Regions from separate parts of the Homo sapiens genome. Here all the other regions are linked to region 3. Evidence: fine-mapped expression QTL. A gene starts in region 3. Each other region holds a variant in brackets. All regions are shown on one strand. Distances are between the middles of the regions. Region 1 overlaps CAP1 (cyclase associated actin cytoskeleton regulatory protein 1). Region 2 overlaps LOC105378669 (a long non-coding RNA gene). Region 3 holds the start of PPT1 (palmitoyl-protein thioesterase 1). Region 4 overlaps LOC105378669 (a long non-coding RNA gene).

The links.
Region 1: its variant is fine-mapped to the expression of PPT1 in whole blood (INTERVAL, PIP 0.97).
Region 2: its variant is fine-mapped to the expression of PPT1 in whole blood (INTERVAL, PIP above 0.99).
Region 4: its variant is fine-mapped to the expression of PPT1 in whole blood (INTERVAL, PIP above 0.99).

What each region holds. Positions count from the first base shown.
Region 1 is chr1:40,055,537-40,060,741 of GRCh38, forward strand. CAP1 (cyclase associated actin cytoskeleton regulatory protein 1) reads left to right here. Exons shown (of 13, transcript NM_006367.4): 2 at 3,801-3,922; 3 at 4,531-4,634. The coding sequence starts at 3,811. Among named protein-coding and RNA genes, the nearest start is that of CAP1, 17 kb to the left of the region's middle. RefSeq lists enhancers at 3,372-4,133, 3,739-3,788. The variant A/T (reference allele first, on the strand shown) is at 2,763.
Region 2 is chr1:40,012,248-40,017,452 of GRCh38, forward strand. It overlaps LOC105378669 (a long non-coding RNA gene), which reads right to left. Exons shown (of 3, transcript XR_001738013.3): 3 at 1,658-2,822. Among named protein-coding and RNA genes, the nearest start is that of CAP1, 26 kb to the right of the region's middle. RefSeq lists a silencer at 3,178-3,227. The variant T/C (reference allele first, on the strand shown) is at 2,649.
Region 3 is chr1:40,094,351-40,099,350 of GRCh38, forward strand. It overlaps PPT1 (palmitoyl-protein thioesterase 1), which reads right to left and starts at 2,902. Exons shown (of 9, transcript NM_000310.4): 1 at 2,765-2,902. The coding sequence starts at 2,888. RefSeq lists an enhancer at 2,637-2,766.
Region 4 is chr1:40,023,608-40,028,812 of GRCh38, forward strand. All of the region lies in intron 2 of LOC105378669 (a long non-coding RNA gene), which reads right to left. Among named protein-coding and RNA genes, the nearest start is that of CAP1, 15 kb to the right of the region's middle. The variant T/TA (reference allele first, on the strand shown) is at 3,036.

The DNA.
Region 1 (5,205 bases), 39 kb before region 3:
CTTGCTTTGTTGCCCAGGCTGGAGTGCAGTGGTACTCATGGCTTACTGAAGCCTCTACCTTCTGGGCCTAAGCCATCCTCCCACCTCAGTCTCCCAGGTAGCTGGGACCACAGCTGTACACCACCATGCTTGGAAAAATTTTAAATTATTTTTGTAGAGACAAGGTCTCCCTATGTTGCCCCGGCTAGTCTTGAACTCCTGACCTCAAGCAACCCTCCTGTCTTGGCCTCCCAAAGTGCTGGGATTAGAGGAGTGAGCCACTGTGCCCAGCCAGTATCCTAACTCTTATCAGTCAGGATGGAGGCAAGAGGCATCTATTCATGAGATACACTAAATAGAGCCTATGGATTTTGATGACTGATAAGATGTTGTGGGGGAGTTTATGGAATCCTTACTATTTTCCAGGACTGTGCCAAGCACTTCTACATGGATTCCTTCATTTATTCTCACTGAAGCCCTTTGGATTTTTGTGCTATTATTGTCTTCATTATAAAGATAAGGAAATTGAGTCTCAGAAAGTTTGATAACTGCTTATAGTCACAAAGCCACTGCATATTGTTATTCAAACCTCCAATCTCTCTGATTTCTCTAAAGAACACTCTTATCCACTATATAATACTGCCCAACAGTTTCCAGTTACTGACTTGATCAATCAGGTGATTGATAGCAGTGCTGGAGCAATGTTAGGGAATATGATTTCTGCTTTTGGACATTTCAGGTTGCCTTTGGGACATCCAGGTAGCGATGTCTAGGTGAAAGCTGGATTTTTTTTTTTTTGGAGACAGGGTCTCACTCTGTCACCCAGGCTGGAGTGCATGGTACAATCACTACTCATTGCATCCTCGACCTCCTGGGCTCAGGTAATCCTCACACCTCAGCCTCCTGGGTAGCTGGGACTACAGGTGTGTACCATCATGCCCGGCTAATTTTTTTATTTTCTGTAGAGATGGAATTTTGCCATGTTGTCCAGGCTGGTCGTGGACTCCTGAGCTCAAACACTTCCTCCCATCTTGGCATTCCAGAGTGCTGGGATTGTAGTTGTGAGCCACAGTACTTGGCCTGAATCTAAAATTTAATCCCAGATGAATGGCCTGAGCTAGATGGATATGCTGCTCTGGTAGTCTTTAGTCTATAGGTGGTTATGGTGGTACCACCTCGCAAATAGGCTGGGTGTTACTACAACAAGGGTAGTCAGAGGCTTTAGGAGTGTACATGACCACCGGAAGAATGTACGTGTGTATAGAGAATAAGAAAAGGTGTGTCTTTCACACAACTGAATCTCATTCTCTACACACACATACAATGTCATACTTAAATTCTGGACATTATTTTCCATAACATCTCAAATCTCATCTTACTCCCACCAAGAGCAAAAAAAACAGTTTCTGTTCTTTTGTATTTGGTTAATGGTAGAATGAGATTAGCTATAAATGGTAGCTGTATTGTCCTTTTTCATTCTGCTTAAGTCAGACAGCGGAACTTTAGCTTGTTTAGCAGTGAAAGCCTATAAATACAAATGAAATATGGAAAAAGGGAGCCAAAGTCCCATGAAGCTCTATTATTAAGCATTTAAGATTGGTAAATGTTCACAAACTCTGGCAGCCTCTAGCAATACATGTACTGTGTCTCCATGTTAACAGTGGTCTCAACCTGAAACATCCATGTATGAAGGAACATGTTTTAATAACAGAACTGAGTGGTATCTGTTCATGGAAGGTAGCTTAGGAGTTTATTGCGTTCCTTGCCTTTTCCCCTGGACTTACAGTGTGGTGGATTGTATATATATGTGAGTCTGTCTCTTGATCAGTATGCATAATGGAACAGGGCAGGAATTCAGATATCAGTTGATAGTGTCATAACATTAGGGAAAGTATGTTGACTGCTTATGGTCTGCTCTATTTGAGAGTAGGACATAGACCTGGAGGCTTCTGCTGCTGCTGCAGGCCAAGGAATGGAAAGGTTTGTTTGGTTCTCATTCTCATTTTTTTTCTTTGCTTCTCTTTTAAACAACACTCTCTGACAAGTGATTGGGCCCACAGAGACCAGAGCCTGTACACAGAGAATGGACAGAGACTATATTGTCTTCCTTACTTTATCTTGTGAGCTGCTTATCTCTTCCACAGGGAGGACAATGTGTTAAATTGAGATAATTCTGGCATGCTGTCATCTTTGGGGGAATCATAATTGCTGTTGTCATTTTAGGCAGCTTCAAGGGAGTTGAGTTCATTCAGCTTCAGTTACCTGAACTGAATTCAGTTGCCTGAATTGACGCTTTTGTGAAATGGAATCTTTCCAAGTCAAAGCTTGGATTGAAATTTCACTGACTGGTTTTTATGAGATCACTTAGGGTCTCAAATACTTTATGTAGAGGTGCATTGATCATATTTTACACTTATGTGTGACTTATGGGCAACTTTTAGCACCCTTATCCCTCTGGAGTTTTGGAATGCTATTTGTGAGGTTTATAACTTCATAAATATTTATTGAACATCTACTACCTGCCAGGTAGTAGTCTAGATGGTAGAGTATACAGTAAGGAACAAGCTATATAAGGTCCTTTCTCTGTTGGAGCTTACTTTCTTTGGGATATTAGACATTGAATTAGGCTATTTCAGATAAGATAGTACTTGTGAAAGATCTATAACAAATTCTTTTGGATGTGTCTAGTGTCCTTCCCTACTGCATGTCCAGATCTTTCTCATCTTCATTTGAAGGCTGGCTCAAATGGCAGCTTCTCCATCATATCCTTATCTGATCCTTCC[A/T]GCTGATATATTACTCCCCTCTTTGAAATCTCATGCCTCTCTATCAGCAACTTTCTTATGTCACCTTAACATTTTTTTCTATTTGTTTCATAGTTGTTAGTGCATATGTTAAGTCTCCCCATTAGACTATAAATTACTGAGGGCAGGCCGGGCACAGTGGCTCACGCCTGTAATCCTAGCACTTTGGGAGGCCAAGGCGGGTGGATTACTTGAGGTCAAGAGTTCAAGACCATCCTAGCCAACACAGTGAAACCCTGTCGCTACTAAAACTACAAAAAATTAGCTGGGCATGGTGGCGCACACCTATAACCCTAGCTACTTGGGAGGCAGGAGAATCCCTTGAACCCAACAGGGTGGAGCTTGCAGTGAGCTGAGATCCTGCCACTGCACTCCAGCCTGGGTGACATTGTAAGACTTTGTCTGAAAAAAAAAAAATTATTGAGGGAAGAGTAAACATCCTATTCATCTTGGTTTGGGATATTTCACATGCAGGCAGCAGGATGTTGTAGGAAAAAAACACACTGAACTTAGAACCAGAAGGATCAGATAAGGATATGATGGAGTACTGGCTTCTCTATTCACTGGCCGTGTGACTAGACAAGTCATTTAGCTTCACTGAAACTAAGTTTTCTATCTCTAAGCGTGTAGTAATCATCCTTCTATTCCTGAATAGTTGTCGGGAGGCTCAAACTGAGATAATGTATGTGACTATCCTTTGCAAATTCTAACTTTCTACACACAGTATCATAGTAAATATTGAGTATTTGAATGAGTAAGCATTTACTTTAGTGAACACCTTTTCCTGAGCAGTTCTCTTGCTTAATGAGGTCTTTTGATTTTGTAAATATGCTACTTTTTTATCTGATATTTTTGTATTGTTCCATTTTGCAGATGATATCTAATTTTATTAAATTATTCTGTTCCTGAGAATTGGCATCCTCTTCATCCACCTGGGGATGACCAGGAATTTTCTGTTTTTTTCTCTGTAGGTGCTATTTAATATTTAAATAACAAATGACATTTGATCTGTTTCAGCAGGTGGTCCATTATGGCTGACATGCAAAATCTGGTAGAAAGATTGGAGAGGGCAGTGGGCCGCCTGGAGGCAGTATCTCATACCTCTGACATGCACCGTGGGTATGCAGACAGTCCTTCAAAAGGTAAGCAGTCCACAGCCCAGCAGAATGCTTTCTTTGAGCGTCTTGGCCTGAAAATTTTCTATTATTCTCTCCTTTGGCGCTAACTTCCCAAAACTTAATCTAGAAAGTTTACCTTTTGTAATTTGTATTGCTGTGAACAGATAAGAGAGGAAATGACTTGTACAGGGAGGCCTGTGGTTAAGTTATTTTAACACAAGAACTTCCTGCTTGTGCAATATTTCCTGCTCTTTCTTTAGCAGAATGACTCCAATGTAAGTCAAATGACAAGTGATAATAAAATTCCTCTCTCCAAACAATTGGCAAATTGGACATTTTGCACATGCACCAGTTGGAACATAGAATGTTAGCACTAAAAAAAACCTTGGAGGATCATTTTGTTTATTTTCATTTTATAGATAAAGAAAATTAAGCTCAGAGAGGAAAAGGAATTTAGTCAGGGTCACACAACCAGTTAGTGGTGATACTGGACCTGGAACCCAGGTTTCCTTACTCCTGTTCTGTATCCTGTTGACTGTATTACCTTGCCTCCCCACTTTCATGTAGAAGCACGTTTTAAAGAAGCCTCCTTCTGATGCATGGCTGATTCTTTGTGGTGTGTTTGTCTTTAGCAGGAGCAGCTCCATATGTGCAGGCATTTGACTCGCTGCTTGCTGGTCCTGTGGCAGAGTACTTGAAGATCAGTAAAGAGATTGGGGGAGACGTGCAGAAACATGTAAGGATGTTTTGCCTTTTTCCCCTTCTTTTAAGGACTAACAGCTTTCTTCAGTCAGCCAAGGTCCTCATCCTTGGTTTAAGAGCTCCTTGAGAAGTTCCTCTTGGTTTGGGGCATTACACATGTTCTTTCTCTTTTGCCTGTACTGAGGAGTTCAGTCTAGCCACAGAAACGATTCCTCATTTTTTTCTAGGCCCCTTGCTTTTATCACGTATTTATACAGAAAGCTTGCTTGGTACATAAAATATGGTTCTGTTCATCTTTGTAGTGAAGAATATGCACCAGTTTGATCCCAACATATTACATAATCAAACCTACAGTGGCTTATTTAAAGGAGTCATTATCATGACTTAGCATTTATAAAACTATGCTTGATAGTTATTAGTTATGCTAATGTGGGTTATTTTCACACTTAACCCACAGCAAGAATATGAAGTAGGCAATGACAGGTGCCTTTCCTCCCACCTTCCTTTATGCCTCCTACGTCATCACCACCACCCCCCACCCCCACCCCACACTCACATATACATTCTACCTCTATTTTTGGGACCCAAAAACCTTCCTGCTAGCT
Region 2 (5,205 bases), 82 kb before region 3:
TTTTAGTAGAGACGAGGTTTCACTGTGTTAGTCAGGATGGTCTCGATCTCCTGGCCTCGTCATCCACCCGCCTTGGCCTCCCAAAGTGCTGGGATTACAGGCCTGAGCCACCGCGCCTGGCCTACGATCATTTAAAAAAAAAAAAAAAAAGTCTTGTTAAGAATGTTCAGGTCCCGTGTAGTGGCTCACGCCTGTAATCCCAGCACTTTGACAGGCCGAGGAGGGCGGATCACCTGAGGTCAGGAGTTCAAGACAAGCCCGGCCAACATGGTGAAACCCCGTCTCTACTAAAAATTCAAAAATTAGCCAGGTATGGTGGTATGTGCCTGTAATCCCAGCTACTTGGGAGACTGAGGCAGGAGAATTGCTGGAACCTGGGAGAGGGAGGTTGCAGTGAGCCAAGATTGTGCCACTGCACTGCAGCCTGGGCAACAGCGAGATTCCATCTCAAAAAAAAAAAAAAAAAAAAAGAATGTTCATAGCAGGTTGGGTGCAGTGGCTCACCCCTGTAATTCTAGCACTTTAGGAGGCAGAGGTATGCAGATAACATAGGCCCAGGAGTTCAAACCAGCCTGGCCAACATGGCGAAACCCTGTCTCTACTAAAACTACAAAAATTAGCCAGGCGTGCTGGTGCAAGCCTTTAATCTCAGTTACTCAGGAGGCTGAGGCATGAGAATCACATGAGCCTGGGAGGTGGAGGTTACAGTGAGCCAAGATTGCACCACTGCACTCCAGCCTGGGCAGCAAAGCAAGACTCTGTCTCAAAGAAAATTAAAAATTACGTTAAAAAAAGTTCATAGCAGCATTATTCATAAAACAACCCAAATGTCTATCAACTGATAAATGGATAAACAAAATGTGGTATATTCACAAATAAAATATTATACAGCCAAAAAGAGAGTACTGATATATGCTGCACCATGGACGAACCTTGAAGACATTATGCTTAGTGAAAGAAGCCAAACATGAAAGGCCACCTTTTAATGATTCCACTTGTATGAAATGTACAGAGTAGGCTAACTCATAGAGACAGAAAGTAGATCAGTGCTTGTGGGGTGAGAGGAACAGGGAATGACTGCTAATGGGTATGGAGCTTCTTTTTGGGGTAATGAAAAATTTCTGGAATTTGATAGTGGTGATATTTGCACAACCTTGTAAATATACTAAAAACCACTGAATTGTACGCTGAAAAGGGTGAATTTTATAGTATGTGAGTTATATTTCAATTAAAAAACCCAGAAATGATAGCAAACTGATTTCTATATTTATAGACCTTGGGCAACAAGCGTTTTGGTAACACCACCCAGCTTTGCATTTTCCACCAAAATGTTAAGCAAAAGAATTACTCAGAGGACAAGGAGAAAAAGCTGGCTATAAATTTTGAAACATAATTTTTAAAAATCTATATTGCATACAATGCTGATTATAAATATGCAATGTAAAGCTCTGCAAAATGCAAACAGTATCTAAATGTAAAATGTAGAAAGTTGCAGTTTCCTATAACCCTATTGTAGGGATTAATGTAATGCTAGCAGTTTAACAGATCAATCCTAACATCTCAAATGCCTAATAAGATAAGATTTTATCTTTTACCAGTGAAATCTAAAACAGAATTTTGCCCCTATCAACATGAAAGAATCAAAAGGATCAGCACCCATTTTTAAAGAGTTTATTCAGGCTGGGCACAGTGGCTCACACCAGTAATTCCAGCACTTTGGCAGACCAAGAAGGAGAATTGCTTAAAGCCAGGAGTTCAAGACTAGACTGGGCATCAAAGTGAGACTCTGTTTCTATTAAAAAAATTTTTTTAAGGCGTTTATTCCGTGAAAATGGGGTCAGTGAAATGGGGTCCGTGCTCTGATGTCAAAAGTTAAGGTCTTGTTTATAAAGGAAGAAAACAAAGAAATTTAACAGGATTATTTCTTATACAAAGCTGGTTTATGAATTAAAACAATTCAATTAGTTAATTTGTTTTCTTTTCCTTGTGGCTTGGTTTCATTTATTTTCTAATTTAAAAGAGTATATAATGTAACAGTCATGAAGGCTTTGTGTGAGAGAGGTAGGAAGGAAGTTAATCTGCAATGAAGATCAGCAGTGAAGTGGGACTAAAGGGAAGTACCCTTTAGTCATTTACAACATTTTACAAAATTATGTAGATAAGGAAGGAGGCTAATCTATAATCAGAGAAAAAATGTTTACAGTTTCCTAGGTTACAGCTGCCTGTCACATGACTCAAGTCTCATAAACACATTTCTTTAAAGCTCAAAATAATTTAATGTTCCAACAGCTTAGATTTTTTTCTTTTTTTTTTTTTTTTTGAGGCAGAGTCTTGCTCTCTTGCCCAGGCTAGCATGCAGTGGTGCAGTCTTGGCTCACTGCAACTTCCGCCTCCTGGGCTTAAGTGTTTCTCGTGCCCTAGCCTCCCAAGTAGCTGGGGCCACAGGCGTATGCCACCATGCCCGGCTAATTTTTTGTATTTTTAGTAGCGACGGGGTTTCACCCTGTTGGCCAGGCTGGTCTCGAACTCCTGACCTCAAATGATCCACCTGCCTTGGTTTCCCAAAGTGCTGGGGTTACAGGCGTGAGCCACTGCACCTGGCCCAATAGCTTAGATTTTGAATTACTTATTTTCACACCACTGATCAG[T/C]AAATTGCTCTTCTCCAAGCAATGATTCAGAGACCCAAGGTCATTCTATCTTCTGTCTTCATCTTGAACACACGACATTCAGAGTTGCCACAGAAGGAGAAAGAGCATGGAGAACTGTCCACGATTCCATTGGCCAGATCTCAGGCACACGGCCATAGTTATCTGCAAGAGAGACTGAGAAATGTAAGCTGATGAGTGGCCAGGCGGAAGAGGAAACAGATTTGTTGAACTTTTGGCCAGTCTCTGCCACACATTTCTCACCAACAACTCTGTCAATAGTTTATAGCAAAGTCCTCCACCTTTTTTTGGTATGCATATACTAATATATAATAACATTTTTAGGGAATCATGCTATGTATATTGGATACTATGGACTGGGTAGGCTGATTCAGATATGACCTGCGCTTATTTAGTCATCATCCATATACATTCAGAATTTAGAGTATACTGATTCAAACCTTGGTAACCTCAAGCGGGCATTACACATTGTTATTCAGATGTTTCTCATACTGACTCAGATGCTACTCAGCACGCTCTTACATGTAAGCCTGTGGGGATGGCCAGTCCCAAGTCCGAAGAATTGAGGAGGGTTTCATAGCTCTGCTGAGGTTTATCTCCCTATGAAGTTGCTTTCTTTACTCCTTCAAAAAAAATTCGTATTATCTGGCTTTTTATATTATATGTTGTTTTAATTTTAACCTCAGATGTGGTTAATTGTTCTCTGCATTTCATGGCACATTACTGTCATTGGTCCATGCAATTCTTCTTCCACTTCTCCCCCTGTCTCATATATGTGTATATATGAGAATTGGGCTATGGAATGAAGGGAATATATATATATACACACACACACATGCACATACAGAAAATAACTGAAACCAAGCCATGAGGAAAAGAAAACAAATTAATTGTTTTAATTCACAAACCAGCTTTGTATGAAAAATAAACCTGTTAAATTTCTTATGTGTATGTGTGTATATATGTACACACACACACGCGTGCACACGTGCACGCACAAACACACACACATATTCCCTTTCATTCCATAGCCCACTTCCTTTCTCTCCCGATAGACAACCACTATAATGTGTTTAATATGTATCTTGGTATTTGTGTCTTGCAAAACATATTTTACGTGCAAATATTTTAAATTTAATATTTAATAAATATTTAAATTTAATAAATAAAGTGACTTGTGTTTATTATGTATTCTGTTATCACTTTTTAAAATCAGCACTGTTTTTAAGTTCAAGATCTATCCATGTTGTTAAGTGTACATCTAATTCATTGGTTCCAATTGCTGTATAGTACTTCATGGTGTACCTTCAACACATTTTATAGATTTATTCTCTAAGTGATGAAAATCCAAATTGTTTCCACAATTATTGCTCCTCCAAAACACAAATGATGCTTCAATGAAGATTCTAGTTCTTTTCTTTCTTTCTTTCTTTCTTTTTTTTTTAGATGGAATTTTGCTCTTTTCTGCCCAGGCTGGAGTGCAATGGCATGATCTTGGCTCACTGCAACCTCTGCCTCCTGGGTTCAAGTGATTCTCCTGTCTTAGCCTCCCGAATAGCTGGGATTACATGTGCATGCCACCAAGCCTGGCTAATTTTGTACTTTTAGTAGAGATGGGGTTTCACCATGTTGGCCAGGCTCGTCTCAAACTCCTGACCTCAGGTCATCCATCTGCCTCAGCCTCCCAAAGTGCTGGGATTACAGGATTCTAGTTCATGAACTTTTATGGACTTGGGTAGGAATTTCATTGAGATACTGACTCGGAAGCCGATTTGCTTGATCATTAAGTATACAGACACACTATTTGACTATGTACCACCATGCTGCCCTCTAAAGTGGTTGCACCAGTCTTCATGTCCACCATGGAGTTCCTCTTTCCCCAACAAATATCACTGTCATATCTCTAATTTTTGCTATCAGATTAGATTATTAATTTACATTTTTCTGATTGTAATTGCATTTAAGCATCTCATCACTTGCTTACTATCCTTCTGCATTTCCTCTCCTGTGTATTGCCTACTCATAAATCTTTCCATTTTTTTTCTTTTTTGTAATTGGGGTTGCTCTATTTTTCTGCTCTATTATTGGGGTTGATATGCAGGACTTCCTTTTCTTTCCTAGGTCAGGGACCAGGAAGCTATGGCCCCCTAGATCAAATCTGGCCTGCCTCCAGTTTCTATAAATCAAGTTGTATTACAGCACAATCACACCCAGCCGGGCTCAGTGGTTCATGCCTGTAATCCCAGCACTTTGGGAGGCTGAGGCAGGAGACTCACTTGAACCCAGGAGGTGGAGGTTGCAGTAAGCTGAGATCACACCACTGCACTCTAGCCTGGGTGACAGAGTGAGACTCTGTCTCAAAAAAAAAAAAACAAAAAGAAAACACAAAAATTAGCTGAGCATGGTGGTGTGCACCTGTAATCCCAGCTACTGGGGAGGCTGAGGCAAGAGAATCACTTGAACCTGGGATGAAGAGGTTGCAGTGAGCCGAGATCGCACCACTGCACTCCAGCCTGGGTGACGTGGCAAGGCTCTGTCT
Region 3 (5,000 bases):
TCTTTGAGAATCTAATGCCACTGCTGATCTGACAGGAGGTAGAGCTCATGGTGGTAAGGCTGCAGGCTCACTCACCTCCTGCTGTGTGGCTAGTTCCTAACAGGTCACAGACCCAGGGAGTTTGGGACCCCCGCTCTAGGGCACAAAATTTAAGGAGGCACTCATTCTCAGGTTTATGTAAGTGTTGACCCTGAATTTGAGAGTGAGTGCCTCCTTAAATTTGCACTTCAGGAGCCTCTTCATCTTGTCCTAGCCCCAGACTTGTTTCTTCTATTTCAGGGAACTAGAACTAGGAACAGGAAGCAAACTGGCTACTGAGTAGAAGTGGACTGAGATCATTTCCCATTTTGAACTTACTTATTCCATTTTCAACCTGCGAGAAAGCTTAAGCACCAATTTTAGAACAAGAAAAGGCTACTGCCTAGAGAATTGTCTATTCCTTTTATTTCTCTGAAAACAACGTTCTCCACACTGAGCTGTAATTGTAGGTTACTTAACTGCCTCTGCCTCCCCTGTAACTGACTGTGAGCTCTGGGAAAACACAAAGCTCCTACCCTGTGTCCTCTTTTGACCCCACTGTAGTAGCCCCAGGGCCTGTTGGAGAACCTTGCAAGTGTTTGTATTTGCTGACTCTAATTACTCTGAATATTTTTCTGTAACCCATCCCAATAAAGATCTCACTATCACGACTCTCCCAAAACTGCTTTTGTCAAGATTAATCATCTTTATATTGCTAAATCCAATAATCAGTTGTCAGCCTTTATCTTCCTTGACCCATTAACATTTGATACAGTTGATCATGACCTATCAACATTTGATGCAGTTGATCATGCCCTTCTTCCTGAAACATTTTCTTCACTTGGCTTCAAGGACACTGCGCTTTCCTGACCCCTCCACTTCACCGGCTATTTGGTTACAGCCTCCTTTGCTAGTTTCTCCTCATTTCCTCCACCTCCAAATGGAATGGAGTGCCTCAGGGCTTAGTCCTCTGTGTACGCTCATTTCCTAGGTGGTCTCACCTAGCCTTTAACTACTAGCTGTATGCCGAAGACTCCCTACTTAAATCTCCAACCCGTATCTCTGTCCTAGACTCCACACTCCAAATGCCTCTACAACATCTCCTGGGTGTCTCATGAGGATCTCAAGTTTAGTAAGCCCAAAAGCAGACTCTTGATCTTTCCCCCACCCTAAGTCAGCTTGTCCTACAGGCTTCCCCATCTTGGTAAAATGAAAACTTCACCCTTCCAATTGTTCAGGCCAAAACCTGTGGAGTCATCTTTGGCTCCTTTCTTTCTCTCTTATTCCAAGTCTGATCTGTTAGCAATCCACCTTCAAAATCTATCCAAACTTTGACCACTTCTCAACACCTCTACTGTTACTCTACAGTTCCAAGTCATCATCTCTTGTTTAAATTATTGCAATAGTTTCCTAACCTGTCTCCCTGTGACCATCCATGACGCCCTACGATCTATTCTTAATACAGCAACTAAAGTGATTCTTTAAAAATGTGTCAGATCATGTCACTCATCTGCTCAAAAAGTTCCCCATGACACTCTAGCCAAAGTCCCTGCATTAGTCTTACTAGGCCCAATAACTTCTGTACCTGCCCCTCCCTTCCAAACTAAACTCCTAACTTCTTCCCCTTGCTTACTCATTTCCAGCCACGCTGATCTGAATGCTGTCCCTTGAACACACCAGACATACTTCCACATCAGGGCTTTCCCATTTACTGTTCCTTCTACCAGACAGCCAAATGGCAACTGTCCTCATCTACCTCAGTTTTGTACTCAGATGTCACTTTTTCAATGAATTCTTTCCCAACTTTGCTTTATTAAAAGTGCAAGCCCCCACCTCCAGTTTTTATCCTACACCCTACTATATTTTTCTCTGTTGCACATATCACCATTTGATATGTTATGTTTTACTTGTTAATTTCTTTATAATCTGCTTCTCCTACTGGAGAGTAGGTTCCAAAAGAACAAAGAATTTAGTCTGTTTAGTTCCCTACTGTATCCTCAGCACCTAGTAGGTGCTCAATAACTGTGTTAAATGAATATAGGTTGAGCATCCTAATCTGAAAATGGGAAACCCAAAATCTGAAAGTTTTTCAGCGCAGACATGATGCCACAAGTGGAAAATTCCACACCTGACCTCATGTGATGGGTTGCACAAAATTATTTAAAATATTGCATAAAATTACCTTCCAGCTATGTGTATAAGGTGTATATGAAAAATAAATAAATTTCCTGTTTACACTTGGGTCCCACCCCCCAGATCTCTTGTATATATGCAAATATTAAAAAAAAAAAAATCCGAAATGCTTCCCAGTCCCAAGCATTTCAGATAAGGGTTACTCAATTTGTAAATGAACTGTAGGTGCCTAACAAATCTCTGTTCAATGTGTGAAGGAATAAATAAAAGGGTAGATGCGCCAGTCATATAGCCAGCCGCAGCTCACCTAGCCTGACCAAGTGAGAGATGCTGCATCCTGACGCCACTACTGTAAGGATTAATCAAGGACAGCATGTAAAACTTCAACGCCGTGCGCGGCTCTCTCTTTCCTTCCCCTTCTCTCTTTCCAGTGAAGGGGACGGCTCCTTCCCCTTCTCTCTTTCCAATGCAGATCCTTCAAATCCTAAAATGTCGAGGCAGCCGCGTGCTGTGGGACCACGTCCTCGCCCTCTACACCCGCATTTTGCAGATGCGAACCCAGGCTAGGAAGAGAGAGAATCGCCAAACCCTTTTAAATTTCTCACTCACTCACCCATCCCATGCCAGATCACCAACGGCAGCGGCGCCGGCGGGTCCAGATGCTGCAGCGCCCGAGAAGCGCAGGTCCATGGCAGGAGAGCCACAGCCAAGAGCCACAGGCAGCCGGGCGACGCCATCTTCGCTGTGTCACATGACCGCGGGCGCGAGACTCCGGGAACCGCGCTCCGCCCGCCTGGGCGTGGCGCCGCCGGTTGCAGATCGCAACCTGCGCATCCCGAACGGATGCCCAGCCTGATGGGCGTCGGCCCTACCCTGGAGCTTTCAGCGCGACAGGTCCCCCGCCAGACCCCGCTGGCCGAGTGGGGCTCTGCGCTCTCGTAGACCGCCCTCTGCGGTGAATCAAAATAATTGCTAACATATATTCAGTGCTGATCAGATGCTATCAGGCACTATTCTTACAACCTTTAACTAATTCACTCTTCATAACAATGCTGTATGCACTTCTCCCCCTGACAGGTGAGGACACTGAGGCACTGCGAATTGGCACTGAGTAAGGTGCCCAAGGTCACAGAGATAGCAAATTGGTGGTTCCAAAGTCGTTGCTCTTCACCACTGCCCTGTACTGCCTTTGCAAGAAACATGCACAGAGGAAGGAAGAAAGAAGGAGGGACGGTTTCCAGCCAGGACCAATCATGGCAGGGTGTGGGGTTTGTTCTGGATATTGAAGGAGAGGTAGGATTTCAACAAGCAAAGATGAAATTCAGAAGGACTGAGATGAGCTAAGGTAGAGAGGAGAAAGACAACTGTGTTTTCTAGAAATGTCGGGACTTCAAGACGGACGAAAGCATATGTTGGATGCATAAGAGTGAGGGGGAAACCCATGGCCACTAACTGGCCTAATCTCAGCTGGATTATTTCAAGGGTCTCTCATCAACCATTTCCTTTTCCATTCTCTCCTCTTTAATTCATTTTATGCTCTATTGCCACATTCATCCCTCAATCCACCTTCATAATATCAGTTCCCTGCTCAAGTTTTTTTTCAACAAAACATCAAAAAATAGTTTAAATAATTTATAAAGAAATTAGAGTGTATCCACTATACAATGGAATAATATGAGGCCAGTTTTATAAAAAATGAGTATAGGGCCGGGCGCGGTGGCTCACTCCTGTAATCCCAGCACTTTGGGAGGCTGAGGTGGGCAGATCATCTAAGGTAGCGAGTTCGAGACCAGCCTGACCAACATGGAGAAATCCCGTCTCTACTAAAATTACAAAATTAGCCGGGTGTGGTGGCGCATACTTGTAATCCCAGCTACTCAGGAGGCTGAGGCAGGAGAATCTCTTGAACCCGGGAGGCAGAGGTTGCGGTAAGCTGAGATCATACCATTGTACTCCAGCCTGGGCAACAAGAGCAAAACTCTGTCTCAAAAAATAAGAATAAAAAATAAATAAAAAGAGAGTACAGCCCAGGCAGCATAGCAAGACCCCATCTCTACAAAAAAAAAATTTTTTTTTAATTAGCCAGGGGTGGTGGTATGTGCCTGTAATCCTAGCTACTGGGGAGGCTAAGGTGGGAGGATCACTTGAGCCCAGGAGTTCAAGGCTGCATTGAGCTATGATCTCGCCATTGCACTGAGCTATGATCTCGCTGTTGCCCTGGGCAACAGTGAGACCCTGTCTCTCTCAAAAAAGAAAAATGAGGTAAATTTACATAAAGTGACATGAAAAATGCCCTTAATATGTTGTAAAAGAAAAGTCGATTACAAACCCACGGTCTGTAATCTCTTCTATTCCATGCCATTGGGACTAGAGGTAAGTTGTTAGTTGAAAAGTCGATTAAAATGCAGAATCCACTGGGCGCACTTTGGGAGGCTGAGGCAGGTGGATCACCTGAGGTTGGGAGTTTGAGACCAGCCTGGCCAACATGATGAAACCCCATCTCTACTAAAAATACAAAAAATTAGCCGGGCATGGTGGTGGGTGCCTGTAATCCCAGCTACTCAGGAGGCTGAGACAGGAGAATCACTTGAACCCAGGAGGCAGAGGGTGCAGTGAGCCAAGATTGAGCTACTGCACTCCAGCCTGGGCAACAAGAGTGAAACTCTGTCTCAAAGAAAAAAAAATGCAGAATCATAAAGCATTATACAGTACAGTATACAGTTTTGTTTTAAGAAAAATAAGCTTATTGTATAAGCATTTTATTTTAACTTAAGACTTACAAATTGAAGTAGTTTCAGGATTTTTCTGTGAATATAGCCCGCTCAATGAAGTTTCCTGCCTTTAATGAA
Region 4 (5,205 bases), 71 kb before region 3:
CTTTTGAATGGGAGCATTTATTGCAGTTTTCCTATCCTCATATGACTATTGGATGTTGTGTTTGTGTTACAGATGACTTGACTGTATTTCACAGGTCTTCATATCAAGAGGAACCCACACTCAAGGAAGTACGCCTGAAGAGCTTCATCTGCAGCTAGACCTCATTTAGGTAATGAGACTGTGAACTTCAAGCTGATACCATGTGGGATGAGACTTTGGGGGTCCTGGGAGGAGAGTGAGTATATTTTGCACATGGAATGGACGTGAATGGTGTTGGCCAGAGGGCAGGCTGCGGTAGACAGTCTTTAAATATGTATATCATCAGTGTCTGCTGTACTTGTAGTATGTCCTCTTTTTTACTTCTTTTTTTTTTGTACTTTTCTTCATCATTTCACCAGCGGTTTGTCTATTTTATTACTTTTCTCAAAGAACCAACATTTGGTTATGTCAATCTCTTTTATCACATATATTTGTTTTCTGCTTAGTTTCTCCTGTTGTTTTTTCTCCTCTCATTTTTATTATCTCATTACTTCTACTTTCTTTCCTTTTTTTTTTTTTTTGTTTTATTTATTTATTTAGAGATGGGGTCTTGCTCTGTTGCCAGGCTAGAGTGCAGTGACGTGATGACGGCTCGCTTCAGACTTGATCTCCTGGGCTCAAGTGATCCTCTTGCTTCAGTCTCCTAAGTAGCAAAGACTGAGACACCATGCCTGGCTAATTTTTAAATTTTTTTCTAGAGATTGGGGGTCTCGCTATGCTGCCCAGGCTGGTCTCGAACTCCTGGCCTCAAGCAGTTCTCCTGCCTTGGCCTCCAAAGTGGTGAGATTACAGGTGTGAGCCACTATGCCTGGCCACTTCTGCTTTCTTTGTTGATTTTTGTCTAACATCTTGACTTTAAAGCTTAGCTCTTTAAATTCCAGCCTATCTTTTTTTCTAATATAAGCACTTAAGGCTATGCATTTCTCCTTAAGTACATCCTATAAATTTCAATATAGCACTCTTAAAATCATTCAGTTCTAAGTATTTTCTGATACTTTCTTGTATGGTGTCTTCTTTGATCAGTTTAGCAGTAACTATATTTAAAGTTTTTCCAACATACAGGGTATTTTAAGGTGTTGCTGTTACTGTTCTTACTGTCCTCCAGTTATAATGAGACACCCAATGCGGTAAGTATACTGATTCTTTGGTGTTTGAGACTCGTTTTGTAACCTGGAGCATGGTCAATATTTATAAAAGCTCCATGGAAATTCTTGACAAAAATATATGTACTCTAATATTGGCTAACATTTTCTAAGTATAACCTATTAAGTCAAACCTGTTTTGTTTGTTTGTTTTGTTTTGTTTTAAACTGCTTCCCTGTCTTGGACCTGTCTGTCAGAATTCTATACTATCTGTGACATCTTTGGCAACAGTAACCCAATTTTTCCTTTCTTTATTAATGTGACATGAGATATTTGAAAATTCTATGATACATGTAGTATGTTTCATATTAAACTGAATTTGGGGGAGTTTTACACTTAATAGTTTGTCAATATTTTAGGATATTGGTACTTGATATCCTCTTTATATGAACAAATTGACTCTAAATTTTAAGCTGGAAAGCCATTGCAAAATCATGTAGAAAATAGGCTGGGTGCAGTGGCTCATGCCTGTAATCCCAGCACTTTGGGAGGCCAAGGCAGGTGGAACGCCTGAGGTGAGGAGTTCAAGACCAGCCTGGCTAGCATGGTGAAACCCCCATCGCTACTAAAAATACAAAAATTAGCTGGGTGTGGTGGTGCATGCCTATAATCCCAGCTCAGTCACTGTAGTTAAACTCCATTGGTTTGGTCTGTTAGGCTGAGTGCAGGAGCCTAGTCCAAATCAATGGCCTCCTGTAAATTTTAATTAATTAATTTATTTATTGAGATGGAGTCTCACTCTGTTGCCCAGGCTGGAGTGCAGTGGTGCAGTCTCAGCTCACTGCAACCTCTGTCCCCCAGGTTCAAGCAATTCTCGTGTCTCAGCCTCCTGAGTAGCTGGGATTACAGGTGCCTGCCACCACGCCCGGCTAATTTTTTTATTTTCAGTAGAGACAGGGTTTCATCATATTGGCCAGGGTGGTCTTGAACTCCTGACCTCAGGTGATCCACCTGTCTCAGCCTCCCAAAGTGCTGGGATTACAGGCGTGAGCCACCATGCCACACCTCAATGTCCTTCCAGCCTCAGTCAGCCAGGTGGTTTCAAAGCCAATTCCACATTTTAGGCTTTCATTATGGTAGCACCCATACCAAACTTTTTCTTAGAAACAGCTAAAAGCTGCATAAATTTGAGTCCTCTCACAAGTTCAAGGCAGATAGTTACTCAAGAGATTGAGGCTGAGGACGGGAGGCGGCTTGAGCCCAGGAGTTCGAGGTTACAATGAGATATAATTGAGCCACTGCACTCCAGCCTGGGTGACAGAGTAAGGCTCTGCCTCTAAAAAAAGAAAAGAAAAAAGTTCAAGTGGAAAATGGCAGTGAAAAGATAAGAAGCAGCAGGAGTAGACAGGGAGAATCTTCAGGCCATGGTGCAGGACTGACACCCGTGAGAGGAGAGAAGGAAAGAAGGAGGATTGGGTAGGAAGAGGCTCCGAGTGTTAGTGCAGCTCTGAAAAAACTCTTGGCCAGGCTGATTGCCCAGTGAAGGAGTCCCACATAAGGCAGAAATGGCCCAGCTGTAGTATGCCCTGGAGCTCGGTCATTGGCTGGGATGAATCCAGGGAAAGCGTGCCTTGGCAAGAATGCTGTGGCAAATCCCAGAGGTACGGCAGTTACCTCTACACCTCACAGCAGATTCTCTTTGTGAAGGTGGATGTAAGACATTGTGCACACAGTCCACCCCTTGGTCACATAGCCCATCCCTTGCACTGCCAAGATCCACCTGCCCCACATCATTGGAGAGAAGTTCCTCTACAGCTCTCACAGGCCTCTCTTCCTGAGGAGAAACCTGAATGAGTGAGGTTAGGGGGATGAACCATAGCCCCTATTGTTGCAGATGGTTGAGTTGTCTTTTTT[T/TA]AAAAAAAAAAAAAATCAATTTATAAGACTGGGTGCAGTGGCTCACACCTGTAATCCTACCACTTTGAGAGGCTGAGGAGGGAGGATTGCTTGAGCCCAAGACCACCCGGGGCAACATAGTAAGACCTCATCTCTACAGATAATTTAAAAAATTAGCTGGGTAGGTGAGCCACTGTGCCTGACCATACATTTTATTTAACATATGAAATGCCCAGAATAGGCAAATCTATAGAGACAAGTAGATTAGTGATTGCCTATGGTTGGGCAGGGAGAGTTGTGGGGTGCTGTGTTCTGAATGTGTCCCCAAGATTCATATGTTGATACTGAATCACCAATGTAATAGTATTAAGAGGTGGGGCCTTTAGGAGATGACTAATAAGGGCCGAGCCCTCATGGATGGCATTAAGGCCCTTATAAAAGGGCTTGAGTTGGTGGGTTCCATCTCTTCTGCCATGTGAGAAGGTCCTCACCTGATGCCAAACACCAGTGCTTTGATCTTGGACTTCCAAGCCTCTAGAACTGTGAGAAATGTCTACTATTTATAAATTATTCAGTCTCATGTATTTTGTTGTAGCAGCACAAACAGACTAAGACAGAGGTGGCAGGGGTGAGGGGGGACAGAGTATGACCATTAATGGGTACCAGGTCCCTTTTTGGGGTGATAAAAATGTTCTAAGATTGATCATGGTAAAAGTTGTACAACTCTGTGAATATACTAAAAACATCGAATTGTATGTTTTAAATGGGAGACTTGTATGGTATGTGGATTATATCTCAATAAAGCTGATATATATGTGTGTGTATATATATATGTGTATATATATGTGTATATATATGTGTGTATATATATGTGTGTGTATATATATATATATATATACACACACACACACACACACATATCTATATCTAGGACCAGGACTTACTTGGCTTGGCTTGAAAATAAAACTGTTTTCACTGTCAGCCTCTCCAGATGGTAAATGATTCTAAAGTTAAGAAATGGCTCTGGGCAGAAGTAAAATCCAAGACACTGTCAGGAAAATATTATCTAAAAAAGAAGTTAAAGGTTAAGACCTTTATAGAATGCTTTATAGGATGCTTTATAGAATCCATCTGATAGAAAAAAAAGTCTCTCCAAAGATCTTAAGGACATTTTGGAGCAGTCTCTCAAGGGAAGGAAGTGCTTATCTCAAAGAGATTTATGAGAGTAGCTTTTGTTGGAGTGGATAATAAATTCATGCATAAGGAACCCACAAAGCTTCTAAGAGAATTGCTCTGGCAGAAGCATCTATCAGCTAGGACTAATGGGGACATAGACAGTACAAAATGGAAAGATGCCTTTTATAGGGAGGAATCAGGCTGAGAAGGCTACTCAGATACAAACTCAATTTTCTTATAGAAAAGGAAGGATGATTCAGAGTGTAACCAAGAGCCCAGATATTGGAGCTGAAACCACAATGAACAACTCTCCGGCAATTGGACTAAGCTCTAATCAACCTACATCAGTTGGATTTCAGAGTTGTCTCTGCTGTATGCCTCCCATTTTCCCTTGTTTTGAAGGGGAGCAACTCTAGAGCAACTCTAGCCATGGGAGCAACTGTAGAGCAACTCTAGCCTTTCCCACCATTGTATGTAGGATGTGTATAGGAGGCAAATAAGTTGCCTCGTTAATTCATATATTTGATATGTAGGAAACAAATGGCAGAGATAGATCAATTAGATAAATTGAGAGGCTCTTAAGATAGTCCAGGCAAGAGATGATGGTAGCTTGGAGTAGGTAGCAGTGAAGAAAATGAGTAAGTAGAGAGATTCAGAATATATTTTGAAGTTAGAGCCAATGGTCTTTGCTCATATATTGGAAACGGGACATAAGAGGAATAGAAGAGTCGAATCAAATTCAACTCTTCAATATTTAGCTTGAAGAGCTGGGTTAATAAGTTTCCCTTCAACTGCTTTTGTTTGTCCACTCTCAGAGGAAAATTTTTAAGCGTAACCTACACTGCTCTCCCCCTTTTCTCACCTCCCACTTCCCATTACACTTTATCTAGTCTCTGCCTACTACCAGTCTGCAAAAAATGCTTCTGAAAATATCGCCAAAGGCCACCATGTCTTAAAATCCAATGGATACTTTTTAATCCTTTTTATGTGATCACTCTATTTTATTTAGTACAGG